Linked DNA regions of Homo sapiens. The protein of the gene in region 1 interacts with the protein of each later gene in a pairwise test. Each region holds a gene or a part of one and is shown in the gene's direction. Other genes may lie near its edges. The genes, in order: DESI2, ARFIP1, SEMA3G and NFU1.

Region 1 (7,044 bases):
ATATATGTAAGAATATATATATTCTTCTCTGTGTTTCACTGGATTGTAAGCTTCATGAGAGTAGGATCATGTCTGTTCTATCACAGGTGAATTAGTGACGCAGAGGCTGACACATCAAAGGTACTCATTTAACACTTGTTCAATGAATGAAGGATGGATGATTCATTATTGATGGATCAATACCTGAATTACATGAGCAGCATAACTCATTCCATCATTAGATGATGAATTCTATTTTGTACCTGATAAATTCAAAGTAACCATGGGCCATCCTGTGTGGTAGGGCAGAATCCCAGCCCCCCCGGGAGATGTTCACATCCTAATCTCCAGAATCTGTGGCTGTTGCCTTTCATAGGAAGAAAGGACTTAGCAGGTGTGATTAAGGATCTTGAGATGGAGGGAGACTCCTCAGTTATCAGGTGGGCCCAATCTAATCACAAGGCTCTTCATAAGTAAGAAGGAGAAATAAGGGAGTCAGAGAAGACATGATGATGGAAATGGCGTGTGGGGTGGGGGGTGGGCACTGGAGTGACGGGGCCATGAGCCATGAGCCAAGGAATGAGGGCAGCCTCTAGAACCTGGGAAAGCAAGGAAGCAGATTGTCCCCTAGAGTCTCCAGAAGGAACACAGCCCTTGATGTTAACCCAGGGAGACCCATTTTGGACTTCTGATCTCTAGAACTATAAGAAAATAAGTTTGTGTTATTTTAAACCACTAAGTTTGTGGCAATTTGCAGCCAAGGGAAACCAACACATCCTGTTAGAGAAGTCCAAGAGGCTGTAGGTTATACTGGCCTAGCACTCTGGAGAGAGAAGAGCACCGAAGATGGAGACATGCGGCTCTTCAGTATACATGCAACAGTTACAGCTGAGAGTGGATGAGATCACAAAGGGCAAAGGGAGTGTGTACAGTAAGAGTTAAAGTGAATCTATGGGGACTGCAGCCAGGACTAAATAAGGTGCAAATGCACAGTGCCTTTTCCCCACCTTTCACAGGAAAAAGGGCTTAGCAGATGTGATTACGTAGTTTGTAATTGCTTAAGGTGGGGAGGAACACCATGGGAGGAAAGAGAAGCAAGGCAGCTGATGCACCAAAAACAGGTTTTAGAACTTTGTCAACAACCTTCCAGAGGACAGTCAAGTAATGATGTGCACAGCATTTACTGTCCCCCAACACTACCTGACAAACCATATTTTCCAAGTTTACTTATTTCCTCTATTTTACATCACCTTCTGTCTCTCCAAACTCCCTATGCCCCTCTCCTCACGTCTTACTCTTTGAAGACATTCTTGCCTCATAATTCACTGAGAAAGTAAAAGTAAATCAGGAATAAACACCCTCATTTCCTACACTCCCGTATTTCTAACCTGCCTACCCGTCTCCGTGCCTTCTATGCCGTAACTGTGCACCTGCATCTGCCTTCTATGCCATCACTACAGATGAAGCATCCCCCCTACTAAACAGCAACCATTAACTTGTGTCCTGGATCCCTCTCCCTTCTTTGCCCTTGCAAATCTTTCCCTCTCCTATATCAATTTTTCTCCCTTTACATGCAAGTATGCCTCAGCATCTCCCATCTTCAAAATGCCCTCCATTGACCACACCGCCTTATCCAGCTGTTGCCCCCAAGTTAAGTTGTCTCCCTTTTGTCACCTTACATTTGCTTCTCAAACTGTTAAAGCAGTTATTTAAATCTCACTCCTCCCAGAGACCGCTCACATCAAAGCTACCAGTGATTTCTATATTGCTGAATCCAATAGTCTTGACATCAATGTTATCATGTTCTTTCTGATTTTCCTCCTGCCTCCGTGCTTCCTCTTCATACTTTACTTGACCTCTACATGGTGAAGGGTCCTAGAGCTTTGTTCTTGGCCCACTTCTTTTTAGCTACACATATTCCTAGGTCATCCAACCAAGCCCCAAGTCTATAAATGGCCATGACTCCAGTTTATTCAAATGTCTACTACTTGGCAGTCATGGATGTCTAAAAGGCATCTCAAACTTAGCATGACCAAACCATAGCTCTTGATTTCCCTACCCCCAGCCTGCTCCTCCCCAAAATGTTTCACATCTTAGAAGTGCCAGGACTATCCACTCAGTTCCCCAAGTCAAAAATCTAGAAGTTATTCTCGAATCCTCTCTCCCTAACCAACTCAACATCTAACCCATTAGCAAGTTCCACAGACTTTACTCCAAAATATTTAAACTCTAATTATTTCGGTCTCCACCACTATCAGCCACAACGAAGCCACTTGCTGGCATGCACTTCTGGAACAGCATCCAATTGGTGGACTTGATTAACTTTTGCCACATAACCACCCCCAAAACTTTGTGACTTAAAACATTATTTCTCACATTCTGTGGGTTGGCTGGTCAGTTCGTCCGATCCATGTGGTTGTGGCCAGGGAAGGATAGTCCGGGAGAGCTTCACATGTTCGCAGTTGGTTGGTTGTCAGCTGGATGTGGGCCGTGACTTGACCACGTGTCCCTCATCATCCATCAGGCTAGCCCACACTCATTCCTAAAATGGTGGTCACAGGACTCCCAAGTTCAGCAAGAGGGCAAGCCCCAACTCACAAGTGTTTTTTAAGCCTCTGCTTGCACGATGTTAATGTCCCACGTCCACAGCAAGTCACAGTCCAGTGCAGTCAGTGGGGGTAGACACCACCAAAGAGTATAATTTGGGAGACTGGAAATAATTTGTGGCTATTTTCACAATCTGCCACACTCATCTCCCTATTTCCACCTCCTTTGCCTCTCTGAAATCCATTTTCCACACAGCAACCCAAGTAATCATTTTTAAACACACGCACACTCATTTCACTCCCTGGTCCAAACTTATGGCTTCGTTTAAAATACAACCCCTGTTATGAATTTTAAAATCCTTCCGGGATCTGGCCTCTGCCTACCTGCCCAGCTCATCTAGTACCGTCGACTCCTTGCCTACTGTGTCCCAGCAAGAGTGATCTTTTGTTTCCTTGAATACAGAAAACTCCTTCATGCTTCAGATCTTTGCATTTGTTCCCTTTGACTGAAATACTCCTCCCCCTCATATCTGCGGGGCTGGCTTTGTCATTCACATTTCAGCTTAAAACTCATTACAGCGATCTTCCCCGTGCAGCCAATTTAAGAATGACTTCACCTTACTTAAATTTTCTGCAAAGCACATACCAGTGATATTTTGTATGTCCCTGTTCCTGTTTATCACGGCATTCCCGAGGGCCTACAACACTGCCTGGCACATAGGAAGCACATAACAAACATTTGTTGAATTAATGCAGAGCTGCATACTACGTCCCAGGATTGTGCTAAGCTACGGTTACTGTACCCTTCCCATCTCAGCAGGATAGTTTCACAAAATGTAAATTCCACATTGAGGATTAATTGGATGCACGTTACACCTCATCCCACACCAGTAACTCGTCTTCCTCTATTTCCCCACCACTCCCCTTGCCAAATAAAAGGTGAGGAAGCATTTGGAAAACTTAGGGTCATCACTCTGGTCTTTTGCCACATTTCGCTGGCTTCATCGAGCTCAACGCAACATGAACTACTAACAGCAGCAGCACCTGAGATGAGAGGGTGAATGAAGGTAGGAGATTTCACCGCCCGCGGGCGGCAAGGGATCTGCCGCAGCTCTAAAGCACTGCATGCTGGGAGTTGTAGTCTCCCGGGGAGGCCTGGTCTGGTAGGACCGGGGCCCCCGCGGCATGCAGGGAGTTGTAGTCGAAGGGCTGTTGAGACTCCGCCTCTGCACTTATAGTAGCAAGGGGGAATCCTCACTGCATGCTGGGAACTGTAGTCTTCCTGGGTCCCCGTTCCTCCAGGACGCGGAGGCGCCGGAGTTGCCGCCATTTTAGGTCCCGAGGTGCGCCGGCCGAGAACCAGAGCGCAGGCGGGCTCAGTCCTGGCGCCGGGCCGGCCCCGCCCCCGGGGCGCCTGGCGCCCGCCCCTTGCTCAAGCCCCGCCTTTCCCCACGTGTCTGCCGCCTAGGGGAGGTGCCTCATCCGGAGCGGGCCGCCAACGGTCCGGCCCCGTCCGCACAGACGCTCCTGTCGGCGGCGCCCGGGAGCGGCTCGGCTGCCCGATGCTTCCGCCCCGGCTGCCGCGGGCCGGGCTGTACGCTTAGTGCCCGGCTCAGGCCCCCTGAAGCGCCCGCGGGGGTGAGAGCGGCCTCCGGCCCCGCGGAGACGGAGCGGCTTGAGGACGAGGCGGCGGCCGCGGGGAGGAGGATGGGGGCTAACCAGTTAGTGGTGCTCAACGTGTACGACATGGTGAGTGCGGCCCCTGGCGGCCCCGAGCCCTGGCCCAGGCCGGCTTCCTCTCGCCCGTGGGGCTCGGACCCCGGCCCCAGGCGCTTCCTGCCTGGCGTCTCCGCCTCCAGCCTAGTTCTCGGGGGAAGCCGGGGGTGAAGGAGGGAGTATTGTTATTTTTTAATCCTCGCACTCGTCGACGCTCCGGTGAACCCAGTCAGCCCGAGGGTTTTGGCCAAAGCTCGGGTGGGCTTGAACCTCTCCCATCCGCTCAGCTTGGACCCGACCCCGGCTCTGGGCCCGACCCCTTGGCCGACGTGCAGTGTCCTTTCGGCAAAGCTTCCGTTGCGTTTCCAACCCCACTTGCCGGCCCCCGGGGCTGCCCCGGGACCCCCGTCCCGACCGCCTGCGCTCCCAGCTCCTCTGCTTCTGCCGAACTGTCCGTCTCTCTCCATGGCTACGTCTTCAGAAACTCCCAAGCCCCTCTAAGTCCAGAAGGTCACAGCTTTCGGGTGCCTGTGCTAGAATCTCTTCAAAGGTGAACAGGAGCCAACACACCCTTTCCTTGTGTGTTAAAGGCAACCTCGTTAAAATATGAATGAGGCTAACATTTCTCAAGAAAATAGCCCAGCTGAATTATTTAGAGATCCTGGTGGTGCTCCTTTCCTACACTCTGAAGACCACTTTCCAGGTGATGCAACAGGTGACGTGACCACGGGAGAGGGAAGGGAAGAAGTTGTTTATTGTATCATCTAACTTTGGAGTATGGCAAGCACGCAGAATCGAGTCCAAGAACTGGTTTGCCTGATTTTTGCAGTGAAATGCCCCCAGAAAAAAGCACCCGGTAGAGAATTGTCGTTGCAGTTAGATGCATGTTTGGGTGTGTTTGCTTGCTTTGTTCTGTAGAATGGGTTTTTGTTCTGTAGACTGGATTAGTACCTCTGACTGCAGTGCTTAAAATTCCTTGTAAGTTGACTGACAAATGAAAAATTGCCCGTCGTTATTTTTGTTGGCTTAAAGATGCAGGAGAGCAGAAATACTACAGGCCAAGAGTCTTATACAGTTCTAAACTTTGTATTCCCTTGTATTATTTATAAGTTTCTAAATTTACAGTGTTATTATATCTTGGGTAGAGTGGGATTTCTCATGCCATATCTGGGAATTGTGTCAGAAGGGTGTAGGAACTGCCTGCCACTTGAGATGAGTCCTCTGTTGAATTCTGATGTGAGCCTGGAGATGAAAGGAGATGAGTTAACATGCTGAGAAAAGTGGAACAGGACAGAAAAAGTTGAAGAGGAGAATAAGCCAAACAAAAGATCCTAGAAAACCATGGCACTTTGTAAGTTCTGTGGCCTGTGTCACTGGTTGAGAAATAATTCTCTGGATTTAAACTTTTTGTGTTCAGCTGAACACCTTTATCTTTCAAGACTCTTAACTGCCCTTTTACTTTCTCTGTGCACATCCCCCTAATCTGAATTTGGTTTGTTTTTTATTCATGAGGGCTATTACTGTCTTTCAGAATATATTCTGCTCTTGAGATCACAGTGTGCCTTTTCTCCTAGATTATTAAACAAACCCGTATTTAAATTAGGAGTATACAGTGGCCAGAAGCCATGGTTTCAGAGCCTAAAAGAATTTGTGAGAATAGAGGAAGAGAGTTTTACCTTTTATATGAAAACGAAAATGCATGTTTTGGCATATAGTGGGCTTCTTTACACTTGAGGCATTCTGTGATACAGGAAAATCTGCAAATTGTGGTCGATTGGGAAAAGCTAGAGATGGTATTCAGTATTTTCGAAGGGAGGACTGTTCTGAACGATGTTAAAATATTGACTAATGAGCGAGATCTTATTCTTCACATCAAGTTTGTAAAATAGGTAGTTAGAGAAGCAGCAGACAGGGGAGAGAGTAAGTGATCTGCCTAAACAACTAAAAATACAATCTAGAATTTGTAGACCAAAATCTGATTCACTATCTTCTCTACTAATTCCTGCACTTATGTCTTTATATTGCTTTTGCCTGTGAACAGGAGATGAAGCATATGAATGTTTATCGGAATGATAAATAGTTGAATTATTAGACTTTTAATAAACTTGGTCTTATATGTTCTTTTGAGGGCTTTGAGTGTTTTATGTCACTAATTCAGCAACCTACCATTACTTATTATTTTTGACCTGGTAGAAGCCACAAGGATGAGTTAACTGTCCTTTCTTCTTTAAGGAATTTAGAGTATTGTAGAGGAGATACACAACAGTGGCAACAATTCAAGACAGAATAGCATGGTTTTGATAAGAGCAGACAAGGATGCAAAGGAGGAGACTATGTAGTTGTAGGATCAGGGAATGCTGAAAAATCAAAGGTATGAAACTTGAAGAATGGGTAGCATCCACAAGGACAGAGAACAATTGACGTGAACAAAATGGCAGGAATAGGGAAAGCGCAGGTGGGATTTGGGAACTATCAGCTGGTCCAGTATAACTAGAGTAGAGCATAAATGAAAGGAGACAAAACTGAAAGTTTGATTAGAACTTCTTTAGTCAGATGTGTTGTGGGCTTGGGTGAAGGGCTGAGGGGGCTCCTTGAGCCAGCAGAACCATTTAAGGTTTTCATGGAGGGGAACAGTGTGATCAGTTGTTTAGATTGAGATACAAATTTTGGTCTGTTATACTAATTTTTCTCAAGTCAGTTTTGGTTTTTGAAATATTTTTGTTTGATGCCAAGGGTAAATTCCTTTTATCTTTGGTAATTCTTCCTATTCATCAGAGATGCTTTGGATGAGGGTTGCTGTTGT
Region 2 (7,835 bases), on another chromosome or scaffold:
TCAGGATGGTCTCCATCTTCTGACTTCGTGATCCGTTCACCTTGGCCTCCCAAAGTGCTGGGATTACAGGTGTGAGCCACCATGCCCGGCCTATATCAAGGATTTTATCCCAAAAGAATAATTATAGATGTAAAAATAATTTCTTACAAATGTATTAGTTTTCTACTGCTAATGCAACAAATTACCACAAACTCAATGCCTTAAAACAACACCCATTTATTATCTCACAGTTCTGTAGATCTTAAGTCCAGGTGGGCTCAACTGGGTCCTCTGTTTAGGGTCTCACAAGGTAGAAATCAAGATGTTGGTCAGAAGCTGGGCTCTTATCTGGAGGCTCTGGGGAAGAATTTGCTTCCAGGCGCAATCAGATTGTTTGCAGAATTCAGTTCCTTGCTGTTGTAGGACTATGGTCCCTAGTTTTTTTGGTTGGCTGTTGGCAGGGACTACTCTCAGCTTCTAGAGGCTTCCCTCAGGTCCTTGTCTGTGGGAAATTGTCATTTCAGCAATGGAGAACATTCCTCCTGTAGAGTCTCTTTCACACTTTGAATCTCTCTGACTTCCTCTACTGCCACAAGCAGGAGAAAACTCTCTGTTCTTAAAGTGCTCACTTGATTAGGTTAGGTCTACCTAGAATATTGCCCTTTTGATTAATTCAGAGTCAATTGATTAGCAACCTTAATTATATCTCCAAAATTCCCTTGCAAGTAACATAACATAATCATGGAAGTAATATCCCATCATGTTCACAGGGAGAGGGAATTATACAAGGTAAGTGTCACTGGAGTTCATCTTAGAATTCCACCTGCTACACGGGACTATTCCCTGCATTGCTATATAATTACAGACAAAATTGAAAATATGCAACAAAAAGGATTCATTCAATAAATTACAAAATATCTACATGCTGAAATACTATTGTGCCACACAAAGAGAATATTTAATGATATGAAAAAATTCCATGATACATTAAGTGAAAAAAGCAAAATATAAAATTATATGTCAACAAATACAACATACACTAAAAATTACATCAGAGCAGAGGCTCATGGTTATTCCTACACAGCTCACTTCCAGCAAACCATAGGGTGTCAGTAGCAATTTGTTAAATAAATGAAGAAATATATATCTACATAGATATAAAGAAAAAAAATACATTGACCAAAATGTTGAATGTTCTCTCTAGGTAAATGAATTATAAATAAGTTCAGTTTTTTCCTCTTTATAGTTAAAAACATTTTTACAACTCTAATGTTCTACCTTTTTTTTCTTCCACAACAGTCATCTTAGAATAATGTTCTACTTTTGCACCAAGTTATTAAAAAAAAAATCAGTATCAGAAAACATAAAGCTGGCATTCTTCCCATTCAGAATCTCTAGGAGTAATGAGTCACTCTCCTTTCATCAGTAGTTTATACCCCTCTGCAGAGAATCAACTACTTTCCAAACTTAAGACAGCACTCACTCATTGTCTTCTACAGATAGATAGCAACTATATCCACTTAATCCTACTTGTACCATTACCCTAAGTAGCAGGAGTTGCTGGTATTCTTGAACTTGCCTGGTATGCAGCAGACAACATATTTCCATAACTCAACTAGAATTGGCCAATTTCCTGGTGTTATAAGAGAATCAAGTAAGTCCAAAGTTCAGTTTCCCAAAAACCATCTTATTTATCATGGGAAAACATGCAAGACAGTAGTATAAAGCAGACTGAAATGGGGGCTCAAATCAAAGGCTGTAAGATCCAAAAACAGGGAAAAATGAATTCTCACAGGGAGGATAAATAATGGGTTCATGACAGAAGTAGCATCTGAACTCAACTGTAAAGGATGGATAGGTACATCACAGGTAAGGAAAAATAGGAAAACATTTCTGCTGATAAGAATAGACAATAAAGCATGGAAGAGGGAAATATGCACTTTGAAGCATATTAAACATTTCTTTGCAACTAAAGTTTCATATCTATGTCTATATTGGTATTTATACCTATCTCTATTAGTTGGCTAAATTAGCACTTTTCCTTCAGGTATATAAGAGAGTGCTCATTTGCAAGATTGAGGCCAGATCTTGGTAAGCCTTTAATGCCAGGATAAAGAATTAGACTTCATTGAGTATGCCACAAATGCCATTCAGGGCTACTAGAGTTCCCCACAAGCCCAATGAATAAATAGCACCTGATTTTTCAAAAGCCAAATAAACAGCCAATAGCAGTGCAAAGTTAAATGAGTAGATAATCTCCATGTCATAAGTATATATGGAAGGCAGCTATTCCCTTTTTTCTTACCTCTCTAAAAATAAATGACAATTCAGAGAAAAGTAGTAATCTTCTATTCTAAACAAAATGAGCAGGCAGGGTCCCCCAAGTTTTAGGGCAAAGGAAGAAAGGAAGAAAAGAAGGGAGGGAGGGAGGAAGGAAGGAAGAAAAAAAGGAAGGAAGGAGGGGAGAAAGGAAAAAAGGAAGGAAGGGAGGGAGGGAGGGAAGGAGGAAAGAAAAAGAGGAAGAAGGAAGGAAGGAGAAGGGAGGGAGACAAGAAGGAAAGGAGGAAAGAAAAAGAGGAAGGAGGGAAAAAAGGAAGAGAGGGAGAGAGGGAAGAGAAAACAAGTCTCCTCTAAGCAGGGCCAGGCTTAAAATGATGTTTTTCAGTTAGTACCAAAAATATTCCCCAATCCAAAGAACGCTGGTTTGCTGCTTCCATTGTCTCAAAGGATGTATAGAATTCCACTATTTTCCATCACCAGCTGAAGTAGTTTCTAGTGTTTTCTTGGAGCCAGACTACATTCTAATTTCCTTCAGGGCAGTGGAAATCATGGAAAGATTAATCCTGTGTATATATAGCCTTGCACAGCGTAATACTGTGGATGAGGATTAATCGTACACAGTACCAGAATTCACTGAAGAGTATCTAACTTGGTTAGCATCTTCACCAAGCAGAAGTTAGCATTAGTTCCAAATCCATCTGAATCTCCATCAAAACCATCAGCAGCTGCCAAGGAAACTATGAACAAACTAAAGCAAGTCTTCACCTTTCCAAAATAAGAAACACTTCAGAGTCTGACAGTCTAATAGTTAGACTAACTTTAGTCAAGCTAAGCATCTCCAAACTCAAGAGACAGCTAGCAGGAATCTTTAAGATAACAGCCAGCAAAAACAATTTAGTATTCATTGTCCACATCATTCAAGCACCGCTGAGTCCTACCGTACACTTCCTCCAAGTCACCCTTCTGAAACCCTAGGAACAACACTTGTACTTAGCTGCAAGTTCTGTAGTTGCTCAGTTCCTACACAATTACAGCAGTAATTAATTTAGATTGGGATTATTTTCTTATAATTGAGAAGACTAATGGTCTCCAAACCAACAAGATGGCTTTGTACAGAAAAATCCACAGTAAGCTATAACAATTGAAGTTACAGTTTGAGTGGGTTGGCATATATATTTGCTCCTTTCTTTTGTTTAAGACAGAACCACTTAAGATAAGAGATTTATGTTTTGGAATTTCAGTACTATTTTTTTAAGAGGTGGTATCCTAGAGAGCTCAATCAATATTGTTATACATTGGAAACATTTATGGTGCCATAGGTGTTTACTATTCACAGATCTGGGGAAGATACCTGCCAGGGATATTTCACTACACTGAAACTCCCTGGAAATCTGTAGAGGTAGAGCTCTGCCTTTGGGCATTAGTCATTAAAAATATCTTGTCAGCTACTGTGACAAGTAAAGGCAGCTGAGAAGTACGGTCTAAAGAAGGGTAAATCTCGCCGTGTGCACAGTTACCCTTCGCATTTCTACAAGTGAAATGGGAGTAAAAATGAGCATTCAAAGCTGTCAAAGGAAAAGCAGTCCAGCAGTTCGAAGGGATATTCTGTGATGGACCAACTGTATGGTACAGTGTGTAAATGAACTTCAGGTCTATCTAGCGCCACGGGGGAGCCACGCTTTCGCACCACTGAGCTCTGGGGATGGGGAGAGTAGTGCAGGTTGGGGCCCCGTTTAGGAAACTACGAAGGGCTCTGAGAGAGCGAATTGTTCAGCAGTTTCCGTGACAGAACAATGATCTATTTAAGAAGTAATGGGGCAAGCAAAGAAAGCAGAGCTCGGTCATCCGGAAAAAGAAAGAGGAGCCGGAAAGAAAAGTATCAAGGAATCTACTGTGAGAGAGCGAGCAAAAAGCAAAAAGCGATCACAAATCCAGAGCAAGTAAGAGCTCAGGGATGCCGGGCCCGGGGGTCTAGCCTTTCTGAAGGGAGAGGGCTCCCCAGGCACGGGGGCAGCGCGAGGCAGCGCCCGCATTCCGTCTGCTGCCTTATCTTCGCATTCTCCCTACCACCCCCACCTTCCCCCCGGGACTGGAATAACCTTCTTCGTGCTCTCCGGTGGCTGAGAAAGCAGCTTTCGCTCTTCTGTGGTAGCGTGGAGGTGAGGTACATCTACCTCCACCCTCCCGGCACCAGCTCACGGTCTGTTGGGGGGGTCCTCCTAACGTGTGAGGCTAGGGTGTGTGAATGAAAAAGAGGGAGGCGGAGGCCTCCTGGAGACCTTCGACCTCTCAAGACCAGGCAGGGGCGCCCTTCCGCAAGCTCCCAGCTCTAGCCGGTGCCTCTGGCCCCGCGCGCATTAGGTCGCTGCCAGAAAATTACCCGGGCAACGACACCGCCGGAGTCCCGGATGTGGTTGCTAGGGCAGCAGAGGGAGGGGCGTAGCCCGCCTCCCGGAGAAGGGCGGAGGGATCCTCGTGGGAGGTGCGCTGACACCACCGAGACGTGGCCGGGCAAGGCCGGATTGAGGGAGAGAGAGGCCGTCCAGGGCCAGGGACAACGCTACTTCCGGTCTCCTCACTTCCGGCTTCGCTGCTCTTGGTTCTGGTTCTGGAGGCTGGGTTGAGAGGTCGCCGGTCCGACTGTCCTCGGCGGTTGGTCAGTGTGAATTTGTGACAGCTGCAGTTGCTCCCCGCCCCCGAGCAGCCGAGGTGCGTGGGGGAAGGGGAAGAAGGAAAAGGTCCGGGTCGCGTTTCCGCTCAGTTTTTGCCAGGGTTGAGGCGATTCCAGAGAGCGGCGGAAAGGATAAGCCTCGACTTAGAAGCTACCGAGTTACCCTAAGAAAGGTGAGGGCGGAGCTGGCTCGCCTGGGAAAAGGCGGGGGAAAGATGGTTTGAGGTGGCTGGTGGGGCGGGCACGTTGCCTACGGGTTCACCGTTCCGAACTTTCACAGGGCACGCCTCTCCTTAGTCTGTGCCGTATCTGCCCAAGTGTTATGCCTTTGGTTTCTTCTGTCCTTCATTCCTTCTGTCCCTCTGAGTGTGCCCCCGAAACAGTCGAGTGAAGGTGTAGGACCGGCCCTTGCAGGGAGGCACTCTCTTGGCTTTGCATACATTGGGTGGGAAAAGGAGTTGCAGGATCCAGAATCCGGACCTTTCTTGACAAAGTGTCGGAGTGGGCCACCTTCAGGCTTGCTGTCCAACCCTCATTTCTCCCCTCTTCTCCCTGCATCCCCAGCTTCCTCTCTCCCGCAGTGGGAGGAAGGGAGATAGTGACAGTCCCTCTGAGAGATTCATCTGGCAGTGGTGCAGAGAGGAGTCTTGCCTGTGAAATGTCCCAAGCCTGACTAAGGAATGCTGGAGTTTTGGAAAGGGAGTTGTTCGATTGTCTTCTGCTCCGTTCCTGTTTGCCAAGTTACTACTGTTTACGTGTCTAGGAAAAGGAAATAATTTTTTAAAAACAGTTTTTAGATGCTAGACGTTTTTCCCTTTTACTTTATTTTGTTATTACTTCCTTTGTTTTGTTCTTACCTTCCTCTTGAGCCCTTTGATTTCAAAAAGTTTACACTTTATACTTCCTGCAGATCCTTTGGCCACTCTTAGGATTTCTGTCCCCCGCCCCTACCCTGTTTTCTCCTAAAGTATAAAATTCATCTAACTACATTATTATTTGATAAGGAAAAGCCGGAAGAGATCCAGAACTTCGCATAAACTTTTGCTTTCATACTTTCACCTGTAAGGGTGTGTTCATGTTTGCCATTTAATTAACTTAATTGGCATAGAAATGTGCACCAGAAATGGTTACCTTAAGTCAGCCGTCTGTTAAGGCTTCAGGAATTGGCCTTTTCTTTTTTCTTTTTTTTTTTTTTTTTTTGAGACAGAGTCTCACTCTGTCGCCCAGGCTGGAGTGCATTGGCACGATCTCGGCTCACCGCAACGTCCACCTCCCAGGCTCAAGCTTTTCTCCTGTCTCAGCCTTCTGAGTAGCTGGGTTTACAGGTAGGCGCCACTACCGCCTAGCTAATTTTTGTATTTTTAGTAGAGACGGGGTTTCACCGTGTTGGCCAGGCTGGTCTCAAACTCCTGACCTCAAATGATCCTCCCTCCTCGGCCTCCCAAAGTGTTGGGATTACAGGCGTGAGCCACCGCGCCCGGCCGAATTGGCCATTTCATTGCTGTTCTCTCAGAGCGGCTACAGATTACTATATTTTACTGCTGCCTTAATTCTGCTTTTCTTTCGTTTGTCCTGTGGTGTTTTTTGTTTTGTTTTCCTTGCTTAGCATGACCCACGTCTTCTCCCAACTACCAAGTCTAACACACTTTTATCTGAGAAAAGAGAAAAGATTTCTAATGTATTTTGTGGATTAAATCCCTGCCTCAGTTACTTTAGTTTCTTTCCAAATTGATAAACTGGTTTTCCTTGGATTATGATTTGCCTTAATCCTGGATGATGACTTGGGGTTCATGGCCTAAGGGTCAACAACTTTCAGGGGTCTTCCTCATTCCCACCCCTGAAATTATATGCAGTTTTGTTTGAGTGAATTTTTTTCCCCCCTGGGGAAAGTGTCCATTGTTTTTATCAAATTCTCAAAGGAGATATACAGCCTCTTGATAGATTAAAACCACCACTTAGGCAGTGTCTTGTTGAAGTTAGTGAAAACAGGTTTTGTGTGTGTATGTGTGTGTGTGTTTTCCACTTAGGCAGTATCTTGTTGAAGTTAGTGAAAACAGGTGTGTATGTGTGTGTGCTTTCCCAAACTGTGCAAAGGAGATATATAGCTTCTTGATAGATTAAAACCACCACTTAGGCAGTGTCTTGTTGAAGTTAGTGAAAACAGGTAGGGGTGTGTGTGTGTGTGTGTGTGTGTGTGTGTGTGTGTTTTCCCAAACTGTAAATTGTTTGCTTTGGGACCAAGGAAAGGAGAATGCAGGGATTCTTCTAGTTTGATATTGAAATCTCTCCTTTAAAACATTAGTGTTTCTAAATTCCTTCCTAGACTTACAGAAGGAAATGAGGCTGCCCACTTTATTTCCTGATTTGTGGTTTTGAGGTTTCTTCTTAGGGATAGCTGTTTGTGGTCCATGCTCTGGAGATCCAGTGGATTTACAAACTGATGTGCCTATCTTTAATATGTATTAAATATCACCAACCAACTAGGCACAGTTCAGAGTAAAAAATTTAAATTCTAGTTGTATTTTGCTTTCATTTTCTTAATTTTTTTTGCTTGAGGCATGTACCTTAGGATTTGATTTGGCTTTGCTATGAAAAACAAACAAGATGTTTCAGTGGTGTGGTCCTTTGGAATGTTGTTGCTTATCTTGACATCCCCTTTCCCTCCATTCTGTATGAGATATTTTAATGATTGTTTCTCTCTTGTGAATACGTTAGTATCCTTCCAAGCTTAATGTAAGTTTTAGAGTACATATTTGAACTTACTGATTTGGTTGTGAATTATTTGTTGATTGAGGGTTGCAGTTCTAAAGGTCTGATACTTTTTTTTTTAGAATGTTAACTTGAAGAGACCTATACAGCTCATCATAGTCTATCATGAGTATCCAGTTTCTTCTGCTCACAGAAT
Region 3 (7,022 bases), on another chromosome or scaffold:
GGTAGGGACAGAGGGGCAGGGGCCTGAAAGGCGCCTTTGTGTTGGGGAGCTGACCCCATTAGAGGGGCCCTGGATGAGGACGCCTTCCGCCCACCCCCGCTCTCTGGCCGCACGCGAGGGCTCCTGCTTGGGTGTGGGCTGCTGGTGCTTCTCTCCCAGGTGACGCCCCTCCCTCCCTCTCTCCCTCCCACTAGCATGTGCTCCACCTGGAGCCTGGCAGTGTGGAAAGTGGCCGGGGGCGGTGCCCTCACGAGCCCAGCCGTCCCTTTGCCAGCACCTTCATAGGTGGGTGATGCCCAGGCCAGGGTGAGAACAGGGAGGGTGGCAGCTGGCCTATGTCACTGGGAAGGGAGGGACCCGGCTGCTGGGCCTGGGCCTCCTCCCCTGACTCTGTTCCCCAACCCCCACCCCAGACGGGGAGCTGTACACGGGTCTCACTGCTGACTTCCTGGGGCGAGAGGCCATGATCTTCCGAAGTGGAGGTCCTCGGCCAGCTCTGCGTTCCGACTCTGACCAGAGTCTCTTGCACGGTGAGGCCTGCCCCTGGAACTGGCAGGGGTGAAGAGGCTACCTTCCCAGCTAGGACACCAGCCTCCAGTGGGAGTCCCCTGCCCCATTCCTCTCCCCACTGGGTTCTACTCCCATCCTCCCCTGTGGGGCCCCTCCACCCAGCATGACCCTGTCACCCTTCCAGACCCCCGGTTTGTGATGGCCGCCCGGATCCCTGAGAACTCTGACCAGGACAATGACAAGGTGTACTTCTTCTTCTCGGAGACGGTCCCCTCGCCCGATGGTGGCTCGAACCATGTCACTGTCAGCCGCGTGGGCCGCGTCTGCGTGGTAAGAGCTGGGAAGGGGTGGTGAGGTTCAAGTCCCTGCTACACCCTCCCATTCCCAGACCTTTCTCCCCCCACCCCTGGCCAGCAGTAGGGAAACTGAGGCAAGGATGCAAAGCTGACATGCATACCTCTCCCCGAGTGGGTGAGGGTAGAAGAGTGGATGGTGGGACCCATCCTCGTGGGGCCCAAGCGTGACTCTGGCCCCTTATCCTGCAGAATGATGCTGGGGGCCAGCGGGTGCTGGTGAACAAATGGAGCACTTTCCTCAAGGCCAGGCTGGTCTGCTCGGTGCCCGGCCCTGGTGGTGCCGAGACCCACTTTGACCAGCTAGGTGAGGGCCTGGCCAAGCAGGCCTAGGGCTCGGGAGTGGGGAGGGCTGAGAGCTGGTGAGTCAGGGCATTGGCGGTGGCCATGACACTCATACTCCTTTCTCTACCCCAGAGGATGTGTTCCTGCTGTGGCCCAAGGCCGGGAAGAGCCTCGAGGTGTACGCGCTGTTCAGCACCGTCAGGTGGGCACACCCAGCACCCCGGCCTTGCGATGGGCCCCTGTCTTTGTCCCTGATTCGGTGACCTGTGACTGTACTCTCTGACTCTCTCTTTGCCTTTGCCTTGGGGTCTTTGCTTTTCGGAGTCTCTGCTTGCTGCAGGCACTGTCACCCTCTGTCCTGCCCATGGAACCAGGCTGTTCCCTTCTTGTCCTTGATGGCCACTCTGGCCTGACTGTCCCATGTGCCCCGGCAGTGCCGTGTTCCAGGGCTTCGCCGTCTGTGTGTACCACATGGCAGACATCTGGGAGGTTTTCAACGGGCCCTTTGCCCACCGAGATGGGCCTCAGCACCAGTGGGGGCCCTATGGGGGCAAGGTGCCCTTCCCTCGCCCTGGCGTGGTGAGTATCTGCTGGGGCCAGGCCAGGGAAGCGAGGCCTGAGCAGATGTGGGGAAGGGCTCCTTGGAGTGGCCTCATGTCCCCATGCACCCCCACGGCAGCGGACGTTGGCCAAGCCTGGGCTCCAGAGGGCCTGGGTGGGGTGGGGTGGGTGTAGTGGAAGAGGAGAGCCCTCCTGCAGTGAGAGAGGTCCCCCTGGTTGGGGTGGAAACAGACTGGCGGTGGAGGGTGTGTGCTGTCTCAGGATACTTCAGGCACTCCCTTCCCTGCTGCCCACAGTGCCCCAGCAAGATGACCGCACAGCCAGGACGGCCTTTTGGCAGCACCAAGGACTACCCAGATGAGGTGCTGCAGTTTGCCCGAGCCCACCCCCTCATGTTCTGGCCTGTGCGGCCTCGACATGGCCGCCCTGTCCTTGTCAAGACCCACCTGGCCCAGCAGCTACACCAGATCGTGGTGGACCGCGTGGAGGCAGAGGATGGGACCTACGATGTCATTTTCCTGGGGACTGGTAGGACAGCTGAGCCAGGGTGGCCAGGCTGGAGAGGGGTGTGGGGTCTCTGGCTGTCCCCTCCTGTCCCGCTGACCCCTCCTCCCTGGCCCCAGACTCAGGGTCTGTGCTCAAAGTCATCGCTCTCCAGGCAGGGGGCTCAGCTGAACCTGAGGAAGTGGTTCTGGAGGAGCTCCAGGTGTTTAAGGTAAGCAAGGGGCTGATGGAAGGGTCCCTCCAAGCCCCATCTCTGGGTCTGAGCCTGGCTACAGGGATGCAGGAGCAAGCCCAGTAGGGAGCCAGCCTGTCTTTACTGAATTTGCAGCTGGCAGGATGCTGGGGAGGGGATGCAGAAAGAGATGCCCCCCCTCCACCCCGCACCTCCGCTGTGGCAGAGGCCTCGCAGCCACTTATGAATGACTGGAGGCCCAGAGCTACAGCCTGTGAGCTGAAAGTGCCTGGGGTGCTGGGAGGGATGGTCAAGGGAAGCAACCTTCTGCAAACCCCTGTAGGACTCAAGTTGCAAGGAGGAGATGGTTGAGATCCCAAGGCCCCTAGATGTTCTCTTGGCCCCTCTAGAGACTCAGGAAGGGGGTCATCTGTGTTTGGGGGCCTGTTGTGCCTCCTGGACCTGAGCTGGGTAATTTGGGACAGCTGCCTCATTGCTGGGGAACAGGCTGAGAGAGGGGACACTCTAGCTCTGTGCTTTCAGTCAAGCCTCCTGCTTGGAGGCCAGCCATGACCAGGGGGCCTTTCTTGTAACCCATCGTCTGGGAAAGACTGTCTAGCCTTAGCTGCCAGGGAGTGCAAGACCCAGCCTGGGAGCTAGGTGGTTCCCACCCCAGGGTTGGAGGAGACTGAAAGCAGGGGTGCAGGGGCAGGTCTTGGTCCACCCGACCCACACTGAGACCCTTCTCCTTCCCCAGGTGCCAACACCTATCACCGAAATGGAGATCTCTGTCAAAAGGGTAAGAACAGCTGCCACCCTCCTCTTGGACCCCCCTTCTGCCCCTGCTCCGCAGCCTCCTCCTCTGCCCCTGCTCCGCAGCCTCCTCGAGCTCCACTGTAGTCTGGGGAAAGCTGTGCTGAGGCAGGCCTGATTCGCCCCTGCAACAAGTGGCCAGTGGGCACTGGAGGCACCGAGTAAGTGGGGCCATGTCCAGATAAGGGGATAGTCACAAAGGCCAGTTCCTAAGGGAGGCAAAAGTGTGCCTGAAAACACAAAATCCAGATGTTAAGTCCAACAAGGCCACTTTTTAGAGGCCTACTATATTTGCCAAGTGGCAAAACCCGTCTCCCCATATTTATCTGCTCCAGTGTATCTTTGTGTAAATCCTAACTTTCGTGCAAGGGTTGCTTAAAGCAAGGTGCACCTCTAAGGTCAGGGACAACTCAGGATAAAGGCCCCTGGGATAGAGGGCAAAGGTCAGCACCTGGGAGGGCCTGGAGAAGCCCCTTAGAGAAAACATCCCAGGTCTTGGTTCTCCTCCATCCCTTCTGTGTCCTGGCACAGAATCTGGTATGCAGCAGATGGGTGATAAACACTTTTTGTTTTTTGAATGAATCCAAGAGGTTCTGGAAGACTTCCTGCAAGTGGCAGGGGTCTCAGGAAGCTGAGGGGCTGAGAGCCTGGCTGCGTGTGGGCGAAGCCTGGGCTCACCTCAGGCTCTGCTTCTGTCCCTCCCCAGCAAATGCTATACGTGGGCTCTCGGCTGGGTGTGGCCCAGCTGCGGCTGCACCAATGTGAGACTTACGGCACTGCCTGTGCAGAGTGCTGCCTGGCCCGGGACCCATACTGTGCCTGGGATGGTGCCTCCTGTACCCACTACCGCCCCAGCCTTGGCAAGCGCCGGTTCCGCCGGCAGGACATCCGGCACGGCAACCCTGCCCTGCAGTGCCTGGGCCAGAGCCAGGAAGGTGAGTGGTGGCAGGTGGGAGGGCCCAGACTGGGCTGGAACTCACCCCTGTGGCCCGGCTCCACCCCTGCGAAGTGCATTCTCAGATTGGTCTTGTCATGACGGATAGTCCTCAGTTTCCCTCTCTGTGTAGCTCCTGCTAGTGCATGGAAGCAGGGTCTTTGGACACAGTGGCTGGCTTGGGGATCCACGCATGCCTAAGTTCTTGTCATACTAGTGGGGCTCCTGAGCTGTGGTGTCAGGTGGTGGCACTGGGATCTGGGTCCCATAGTTCCCAAGCTGAGCCAACCTCTGCCTCTCTCCAGAAGAGGCAGTGGGACTTGTGGCAGCCACCATGGTCTACGGCACGGAGCACAATAGCACCTTCCTGGAGTGCCTGCCCAAGTCTCCCCAGGCTGCTGTGCGCTGGCTCTTGCAGAGGCCAGGGGATGAGGGGCCTGACCAGGTGAGTGAGGAGACCCCTGCCTCTAGCCTCTGTGTGTCCTGAGGTCACCTCCCATCCTGAACCCCAAGACCTGAGCCCCAGAAAGGGGTTCTGGGGGGAATCTGCCAAGATTAACCTAAAAAAAGTTTGTATTAGGCTCCTGGGGTGCCTAGAAGGAGGTGCCCTATTTTTGCCTTTTGGGAATGCCCAGGCCAGATGTGGCTGGAACTCCCCCAGTCTGAGGGGTGGGTGATGGAAGAGAGAGAAGAGGGTCTGGGCAGGCCAGTAAGTCTCCCATGTTTACACACATGGCTCATCTTTGAAGGATTCTCTTCTCCAGGGGTTCTTGGTTCTCTTCTGCCCCAGGCAGGGGAGGGGGCTGTGCCCTGGGCCCAGGACTAGGCTTCAGAACCTCCCTATGCTACACACACACAACAGAAGAGAACCTTCTGGGTCCCTAACCACTGGTCCTTGCCCTCCACCCTCAAAGCCTGGCCCCACACTTCCTCCCTGGAGTCCAGCTGTCTGCTCAGGGCCTCTCCTCCCCCATCCGGAAAGGTCTATCAACCCCAGGGATGGTTTAAGTCTGGGGCCTGAGGATGGGCATTGGCCGGGGCAGGGAAGGGGAGGGGCAGGAGTGGATTGATTACAGGAGGGGCTCTCCCTCCAGCCTGGGAACTGGGGGAGGCCAGCCTTGGGCCAGCTGTTGGGCTGGGCACTGAGAAGATTCCCCAGGGGAGGAGGGGAGCAACAAGATGGTGTTTCACAACACTAGCTAATGGCTCAAGCAATCCACCCCCAACACACAGATGTGCAGACTAAAACCCACACAGGGTCCAGGCCAGAGGCGGGCTGGGATCAGGGCGGCACTCCCACTTCCCACGCTGTGATGGGCGATCAGCCCACCCTGGGCTGGGGCTGTCAGCTCGCACCGTTGGGGGAATGAACGGTTCAGACCAGGATGGGAAGGCCCTGTGTGTGTCTCTGTGTGTGTGTGCGTGCACGTGCATGTGTGCGTGGGCACACGCACATTGTATGTGTGTAGCATAGGGAGTTTCTGAAGCCCAGTTCTGGGCCAGGGGGCACAGCCCCTCCCTTGAGAAAAGCCTGTAGATGGGATGGTACCTCCAGAAGGGCTAAGGGGATAACATCTTAGCCCCTATGTTCCTTGGGAATGTGTGCCAGGGCCCTCTGAGGCCAAGATTGGAGTCCTCTGACTAAGGGAGAAACCAGCCAGTCAAATCCTTGAGAAGGCCCCTTCCTGGGCTATGGGAAGGTGAGGCCCCACCTGAATTAGCTGGTGGTCTAGAGGAGGCCCAGACTGCCACGCTGCTGGTCCCCTCCTGGGAAGGGGAGAATAGGGCAAGAAGTGCCCAGGCACTGGGCCCCAAGGATGGCAGAAAAGCTGGGGCAGAGAAGCCGATGGTAAACTCCCACCTTGCACCCTACTCACGCCCTCCCGCCCGCATGGCAGGTGAAGACGGACGAGCGAGTCTTGCACACGGAGCGGGGGCTGCTGTTCCGCAGGCTTAGCCGTTTCGATGCGGGCACCTACACCTGCACCACTCTGGAGCATGGCTTCTCCCAGACTGTGGTCCGCCTGGCTCTGGTGGTGATTGTGGCCTCACAGCTGGACAACCTGTTCCCTCCGGAGCCAAAGCCAGAGGAGCCCCCAGCCCGGGGAGGCCTGGCTTCCACCCCACCCAAGGCCTGGTACAAGGACATCCTGCAGCTCATTGGCTTCGCCAACCTGCCCCGGGTGGATGAGTACTGTGAGCGCGTGTGGTGCAGGGGCACCACGGAATGCTCAGGCTGCTTCCGGAGCCGGAGCCGGGGCAAGCAGGCCAGGGGCAAGAGCTGGGCAGGGCTGGAGCTAGGCAAGAAGATGAAGAGCCGGGTGCATGCCGAGCACAATCGGACGCCCCGGGAGGTGGAGGCCACGTAGAAGGGGGCAGAGGAGGGGTGGTCAGGATGGGCTGGGGGGCCCACTAGCAGCCCCCAGCATCTCCCACCCACCCAGCTAGGGCAGAGGGGTCAGGATGTCTGTTTGCCTCTTAGAGACAGGTGTCTCTGCCCCCACACCGCTACTGGGGTCTAATGGAGGGGCTGGGTTCTTGAAGCCTGTTCCCTGCCCTTCTCTGTGCTCTTAGACCCAGCTGGAGCCAGCACCCTCTGGCTGCTGGCAGCCCCAAGGGATCTGCCATTTGTTCTCAGAGATGGCCTGGCTTCCGCAACACATTTCCGGGTGTGCCCAGAGGCAAGAGGGTTGGGTGGTTCTTTCCCAGCCTACAGAACAATGGCCATTCTGAGTGACCCTCAGAGTGGGTGTGTGGGTGCGTCTAGGGGGTATCCCGGTAGGGGGCCTGCAGGGAGCCAGAGGGTGGAAATGGCCTCTAAGCTAGCACCCCGTAAGAAGAGCCTACCTGACCGACTTGGGGAGGGAACACAGAGGTGTTGGGAAGGTGG
Region 4 (7,022 bases), on another chromosome or scaffold:
AGGCCTGGCGCTGTGGCTCACGCCTGTAATCCCAGCACTTTGGGAGGCCGAGGCTAGTGGATCATGAGGTCAGGAGTTCAAGACCAGCCTGGCCAAGATGGTGAAACCCTGTCTCTACTAAAAATACAAAAATTAGCCGGGCATGGTGGTGGGCATCTATAATCCCAGCTACTTGGGAGGCTGAGGCGGAGAATTGCTTGAACCCAGGAGGCGGAGGTTGCAGTGAGCCAAGATCGCACCACTGCACTCCATCCTGGGCGACAGAGCAAGACTCCGTCTCACAAAAAAAAAAAGAAAAAAAAAAGTGAAGTGAAGTTACAACACTGGGTTAATATGTTTCCATCCAAAAAGCATATAAAAGGCAGGGCATGGTGGCTCACGCCTATAATCCCAGCACTTTGGGAGGCCAAAGTGGGAGGATTACTTGAGCCAGGAGCTGGAGATCAGCCTGAGCAACATAGTGGTAATCCATCTCTACCAGAAGTAAAAAAAAAAAAAAAAACTAGCTGGGCATGGTGGCATACAGCTGTAGTGTCACCTACTTGGGAGGCTGAGGTGGGAGAATCACTTGAGCCTAGGATGTTGAGGCTGCAGTGAGCCCTGATCACACCATTGTACTCCAGCATGGGTGACAGAACAAGACCCTGTCTCAAAACAAAACACGAAAAGCGTGATCAAGATCGTTGGCTGTGTAATCCCAGCATTTTGGGAGGCCAAGGCAGGTGGATCACTTTAGGTCAGGAGTTGGAGATCAGCCTGGCCAACGTGGTGAAACCCTGTCTCTACTAAAAATATAAAAATTAGCCGGGTGTGATGGTGTACACCTGTAATCCCAGCTACTAGGGAGGCTGAGGCAAGAGAATCACTTGAACCCAGGAGGTGGAGGTTGCAGTAAGCTGGGATCGCATCACTGCACTCCAGCGTGGGCGACAAAGTGAGACTCAGTCTCAAAAAAAAAAGACGGGCCAGGTGTGGTGTCTCATGCCTGTAATCTCAGCACTTTGGGAGGCCGATACGGGAGGATCACCTGAGGTCAAGAGTTCGAGACCATCCTGGCCAACATGGTGAAACCCTGTCTCTACTAAAAAGTACAAAAATTAGCCAGGCATGGTGGCGGGCACCTGTAATCTCAGCTACTCGGGAGGCTGAGGCAGCAGAATTGCTGGCACCTGGGAGATGGAGGTTGCAGTGAGCCGAGATTGTGCCATTGCACTCCAGCCTGGGCCAACAACAGTGAGACTCCATCTCAAAAACAAAAAGGACAGTCGTATACTTTTTTTTTTTTTTTTTTTGGAGATGGAGTCTTGCTCTTTGGGCCAGGCTGGAGTGCAGTGGCACGATCTCGGCTCACTGCAACCTACGCCTCCTGGGTTCAAGCGATTCCTCTGCCTCAGCCTCCCGAGTAGCTGGGATTACAGGCGCCCACCACCACTCCCAGCTATTTTTTGTATTTTTAGTAGAGATGGAGTTGCACCATGTTGGGCAGGCTCGTCTCGAACTCCTGACCTCAGGTGATCCACCTGCCTTGGCCTCCCAAAGTGCTGGCATTACAGGCGTGAGCCACCACCCCTGGCCCAATAGTATACTTTCTTTTAGATTTTTTGAAGTATTGAAATACTTTTCAAAACAGGTAATATAGGTTATCTTGAGAGAGGGAAACGTAAGGGACAGGAAAGGAGGGAGGCTTTCACTATTTATGCTTTTTTCCCTTACCAGTTTTGAACCATGTGACTCTATTGCCTAATTCTAAATTTTTTAAAAAAATAAAAAAGCTTATAGTTATTTGCTTCCTTCCTGTATAACCAAGAGTCTGGGACTATGGGTTATAAATTACTAATGTAGATACAATTCTGTTTCTTTTTTTTTTTGAGGTAGAGTTTCACTCTTGTTGCCCAGGCTGGAGTGCAATGGCATGATGTTGGCTCACTGCAACCTCTGCCTCCTGGGTTCAAGCAATTCTCCTGCCTCAGCCTCCTGAGTAGCTGGGATTACAGGCATGTGCCACCATGCCCGGCTAATTTTGTATTTTTAGTAGAGATGGGGTTTCTCCATGTTGGTCAGGCTGGTCTTGAACTCCCAACCTCACGTGATCCACCTGCCTCGGCCTCCCAAAATGCTGGGATTACAGGCGTGAGCCACCTCACCCAGCCCAATTCTGTTTCTTATACCTCAATGTTATATTATCCTGTGCACACCCGGTTATCAAGGGTAGGAATTTCCATTTGAGCTCTACCTGATTTTGAATTGTTTGTAGATATTGCTTGCCTAAGTAAGTGGAAATAATGTAGATGGAAGATGAAAAGTCAGTTCTCTAATTATTTCTATTGCGGGTTATGTTTAAATTTTACATAGGTCTTTTTTATACATGAGAAGTAGAAACCAACTTTAAAAGATTAGAGCTCTTAAAATGTCATTCATTATGTGCTTTTAAATGCAGGTTCTGTCATATGTTGAAGAATCCATACACCATTAAGAAACAGCCTCTGCATCAGTTTGTACAAAGACCACTTTTCCCACTACCTGCAGCCTTTTATCACCCAGGTAAAATTTCACCTCTTTTATAGCAGTTGTGTTTCAGAAACTGATGGAACTGTGCTAGGATTTTGTGGATCATAAAAGATGAGAATTTGTATATTTTCTATTTAGAAGCCTATAGATAGAATATAGGAAAAAAAGCTATATTTTTCTTATAGGCTTCTAAGTAGAAAATGTATTTGCAAGGATATTGTCCAATAGATCTATGAAATCTCAGTATGTTGTATAACATATCCCCTGCAACACAAGAGTTGCTCAATAAATGATTTCCAAAATGAAAATACTGTAGAAGTTAAAATCTGACTGGGTGTGGTGGCTCATGCCTGTAATCCCAGTACTTTGAGAGGCTGAGGCAGGTTGATCGCTTGAGCCCAGGAGTTTGAGACCAGCCTGGGCAACACAGCAAAACCCTGTCTCTACAAAAAATACAAAAAATTAGCTGGGCATGGTGGCGCACACGTGTAGTCCCAGCTGCTTGGGAGGCTGAGGTGGGAGAATCCCTTTAGCCCAGGAGTTCAAGCTTGCAGTGAGCCGTGATCACACCACTGTGCTCCAGCCTGGGTGACAAAGTGGGACCCTGTCTCAAAAAGAAGTTTCAAATGGGGATTGTGTTTCAAAGAATTCTATGTATTTAAAGCTACTGCTGTCCTTTTTTTGGATAAGAATACCCTTAAAATTAGTAAATTTCTGGCTTTCATCCAGACCTTAGAACACAGGATTTTGAATGTAGTAAAAAACTACATTCAAAAAAAAGAAAGAAAAGCTTTTTTGTCAAAATTAATTACTATGGTTTTGTTAATAATCTTGATTGTTAACGAGATATATACTTTAATTTTCTTTAATTTGGGAAATAGATATGATTTAAAATAATTTGAAGTGTGATGACTGTAATGTAGAGTTAGGGAAGTTTAAGGGGAGAGGGTATGTGTGTCTGCATGTGTGTATGTATGTAAATGTATACCTATATGTGTTATGGAGCTGTAAGCATATAAATTCAGCCTCTCCTTTCCATTGCTAGCTTGAACACATTCCTGTGGCCATACTCTGGCTGATTCTGGCTAAGGGCGTGAGTTAAATCAGGGTAGACCTTACCCCTTCTGTAGCCAGGGGCCAGAAGAGGAACACTTTCCTGCAGGCTTGCCTGACTGCTTGGATCACAGAATAGCTTAGATATAAATATTGTAAATACTGAGTAACTCAGCTGATTAAACCACTTTAATTGGACTTTTAAACTTTGTAGGACTGAAATATGTGGTCATATAGGCTTTTCAAATAGGAAACCCATTAATTTTAGTCATTGATATTGACTTTAAGCACCACTAATCTGTATTTTGGGGGAGTTTACATCTACCTCCTTAGGTACCTATTAGTACCAAGCATAATAGGAAAAAATAGGCTGGCATGGTGGCTCATGCCTATAATCCCAACACTTTGAGAGGCTGAGGCGGGCAGATCCCTTGAGCCCAAGAAGTTCAAGACCAGCCTCAGCAACATGGTCAAACCCTGTCTTTACAAAAAAATACAAAAATTATCTGGGCTTGGTGGTGCATGCCTGTAGTCCCAGCTACTCAGGAGGCTGAGGTGGGAGAATCACTTGAGCCTAGGAGGTTGAGGCTGCAGTGAGCTGTAATCATGCCACTGCACTTCAGCCTGGGCAGCAGAGTGAGACACTGTCTCAAAAAAAAAAAAAGGAAGAAATATTTTTTATCATTCTGTCCTGTTTCCTGTTGTAAGTCTCATGACATTTTCATGAGCATCTTTCTGGATGATGGACCTGGGAGTCATTTTTGAAATACAAAATTAAACCCAATTGAGATTATAATTGTAATGATTTTGTTAAGTACCTATTCAAATTAGGTGTTTTTTTTTGTTTGTTTTTGAGGCAGGGTCTCACTATGTTGCCCAGGCTAAAGTGCAGTGATGTGATCTTGGCTCACTGTAACCTCCGCCTCCTGGGCTCCAGCCATCCTCCCACCTCAGTCTCCCAAGTAGCTGGTACTACAGGTGCGTACCAACACACCCAGCTAATTTTCGTATTTTTTGTAGAGACGAGGTTTCACTACATTACCTAGGCTGGTCTTGAACTCCAGAGCTCAAGTAACCTGCCTGGCTCAGCCTCCCAAAGTGCTGGGATTATAGGCGTGAGCCACCGTGCCCAGCCTGAATTAGTTTTTTAGTAATAGCTTTATTTATTGTCAACAGTAAAAAGTTCTGTGATGATGTCATTCATTTTCATACTTTCTACTTTAGATAGTATAGAGTATATGCTCTTAAGTGACTTTTTATTTTGCATTTGTAGTTTTTACCCTCAAGGATTTCTAAAAATTTTGCTTTCTGCAGGTGTAGTTTTTCTCAAATTGATTGAGTAGAATAAAGCCAGATTTTTTTTTTTTGTCTTGGCTCACTGCATTTTCTACTGCCTGGGCTCAAGCAGTCCTCTTGCCTTAGCCTCCTATGTAGCTGGAATTATAGGCACATGCCACCACAGCTGACCAATTTTTGTATTTTTTTGTAGAGACAGGATCTCTGTTGCCCAGGCTGGTCTCGAACTTCTGCCCTCAAGTGATCCTCCTGCCTTGGCCTCCCAAAGTGCTGGGATTATAGGTGTGAGCTGATGCACCCAGTTGAAGCCAGATTTAATTTTTCAAATATTGGTAGAGTACTGTGTGCAGATTTTGGTTAGCAATAAATTATTAATACAAGCTGCAAGAAATGATTGGTTCAGAGCCAGAGTTAGAAGATTATTTACAGAAAGTGTTGGCAGCCCTTTCTTTAATGTGTCATTGAAAAATCATTCCCTTATAACACAGATTTTCAGAAGAATGTCTTACTAGAAATATACATATTTTAAATGAAGTACTTGGACATTGCGGCTATTTTTTCATTTTTTAGGAATTGTCTGGTTGTCTAATTAGAAAAAGGATTTAAACAAAATGTATGGGAGTTCACTTTCAATTTTTTTCTTTATCCATGAAATGGTTTAACTTCAGCTAGCTGGAACTGCATGGCAAAGTACAAAAATGGCTCTCAGTTGTCAAATTAGAACTTTTTCTGTAATGACTAAGAAAAGCATTTTTGTACCAACCATATGTTTTGCCAAATTTAAACTCTTTCAAATTTAAAATAAAACTGTTGCTTTTTGATATTCTATTCTCTCTCCTAAAATAGGTGATGTGAAAATTAGGACAGGAAGATTGATCTTAAATGTATTTTCCTATTATGCCTGGCAATGTTAGATAAGGATTAGCAATATGTACGGTGGCTAAGAAAGTCAGCACCTAGAAAATTGTCCAGCTTTGAATCCTGGCTCTGTCACTTAGTAGCTGAGTGACCTTTAGTCTCCTTATTATAAAATAAGATAAAAATAGTAAGTATTGAAAGTACTCATTGAAAGTATGTAAGGATTAAATGATATAATACATGTAAAGTGCTTAGCACCCTGCCCAGTGCATGATAGGCACTGAATAATTTTTTTTTTTTTGAGACAGAGTCTCACTATGTCTCGCAGGCTGGAGTGCGTGGTGGCTGGATCTTGGCTCACTGCAACCTCCCTCTCCTGGGTTCAAGCAATTCTCCTGCATCAGCCTTCTAGGTAGCTGGGATTACAGGCGCACATCACCACACCTGGCTAATTTTTGTATTTTTAGTAGACACAGGGTTTTACCATGTTGACCAGGCTGTTCTCGAACTCCTGACCTCAGGTGATCCGCCTGCCTTGGCCTCCCAAAGTGCTGGGGATTATAGGCATAACCCACTGCGCCCGGCCAGGCACTGAATAAATTTTAATTGTTATATAGTATTGTCAGTCTATTTAAATATACTGCTGTAAGATGGAGGATTTCTTTTTACTCAGAAGGTTCATTTTCTTTTTTCTTTTTTCTTTTTGAGACAGAGTCTTGCTCTGTTGCCCAGGCTGGACTGTAATGGCGCAATCTTGGTTCACTGCAGCCTCCACCTCCCAGGTTCAAGTGATTGTCCTGCCTCAGCCTCCTAAGTAGCTGGGATTACAGGAGCGCACTACCACGCCTGGCTAATTTTTGTATTTTTACAAATACCTCTACAAAATAACCCTACCTCTACAAAACCCCTGTAGAGACGGGGTTTCACCATGTTGGCCAGGCTGGTCCTGAACTCCTGACCTCAGGTGATCTGCCCACCTCGGCCTTCCAAAGTGCTGGGATTACAGGTGTGAGCCACCACACCTGGCCTTTTTTTTTTTTTTTTTTTTGAGACTGAGTGTCACTCTGTCACCCAGGCTGGAGTGCAGTGGCACATTCTTGGCTCACTGCAAGCTCCGCCTCCCATGTTCAAGTGATTCTCCTGCCTCAGCCTCCCAAGTAGCTGGGACTACGGACGCACACTACCACGCCTGGCTGACGTTTGTGTTTATAGTAGAGATGGGTTTTCACCATGTTGGCTAGGCTGGTTTCAAACTCCTGACCTTGTGATCCACCTGCCTTTACCTCCCAAAGTGCTGAGATTACAGG

The links.
Region 2: the proteins of DESI2 (region 1) and ARFIP1 interact in binary tests that used the Homo sapiens proteins (3 or more experiments, as listed by UniProt).
Region 3: the proteins of DESI2 (region 1) and SEMA3G interact in binary tests that used the Homo sapiens proteins (3 or more experiments, as listed by UniProt).
Region 4: the proteins of DESI2 (region 1) and NFU1 interact in binary tests that used the Homo sapiens proteins (3 or more experiments, as listed by UniProt).

What each region holds. Positions count from the first base shown.
Region 1 is NC_000001.11:244,649,082-244,656,125, forward strand, and holds the start of DESI2 (deubiquitinase DESI2), read left to right. Parts: upstream 1-4,044; 5' UTR 4,045-4,232; coding exon 4,233-4,274; intron 4,275-4,831; exon of another isoform or gene 4,832-4,851; coding exon of another isoform or gene 4,852-4,944; intron 4,945-7,044. UniProt on the Homo sapiens protein: Has deubiquitinating activity towards 'Lys-48'- and 'Lys-63'-linked polyubiquitin chains. Deubiquitinates 'Lys-48'-linked polyubiquitination of RPS7 leading to its stabilization.
Region 2 is NC_000004.12:152,775,124-152,782,958, forward strand, and holds the start of ARFIP1 (arfaptin-1), read left to right. Parts: upstream 1-4,830; 5' UTR 4,831-5,103; intron 5,104-7,835. UniProt on the Homo sapiens protein: Plays a role in controlling biogenesis of secretory granules at the trans-Golgi network. Mechanistically, binds ARF-GTP at the neck of a growing secretory granule precursor and forms a protective scaffold.
Region 3 is NC_000003.12:52,435,082-52,442,103, reverse strand, and holds part of SEMA3G (semaphorin-3G precursor), read left to right. Parts: intron 1-194; coding exon 195-285; intron 286-413; coding exon 414-530; intron 531-694; coding exon 695-840; intron 841-1,055; coding exon 1,056-1,170; intron 1,171-1,280; coding exon 1,281-1,350; intron 1,351-1,582; coding exon 1,583-1,727; intron 1,728-2,005; coding exon 2,006-2,237; intron 2,238-2,332; coding exon 2,333-2,424; intron 2,425-3,142; coding exon 3,143-3,184; intron 3,185-3,904; coding exon 3,905-4,133; intron 4,134-4,437; coding exon 4,438-4,577; intron 4,578-6,030; coding exon 6,031-6,501; 3' UTR 6,502-7,022. UniProt on the Homo sapiens protein: Has chemorepulsive activities for sympathetic axons. Ligand of NRP2.
Region 4 is NC_000002.12:69,427,421-69,434,442, reverse strand, and holds part of NFU1 (NFU1 iron-sulfur cluster scaffold homolog, mitochondrial), read left to right. Parts: intron 1-2,437; coding exon 2,438-2,541; intron 2,542-7,022. UniProt on the Homo sapiens protein: Iron-sulfur cluster scaffold protein which can assemble [4Fe-4S] clusters and deliver them to target proteins.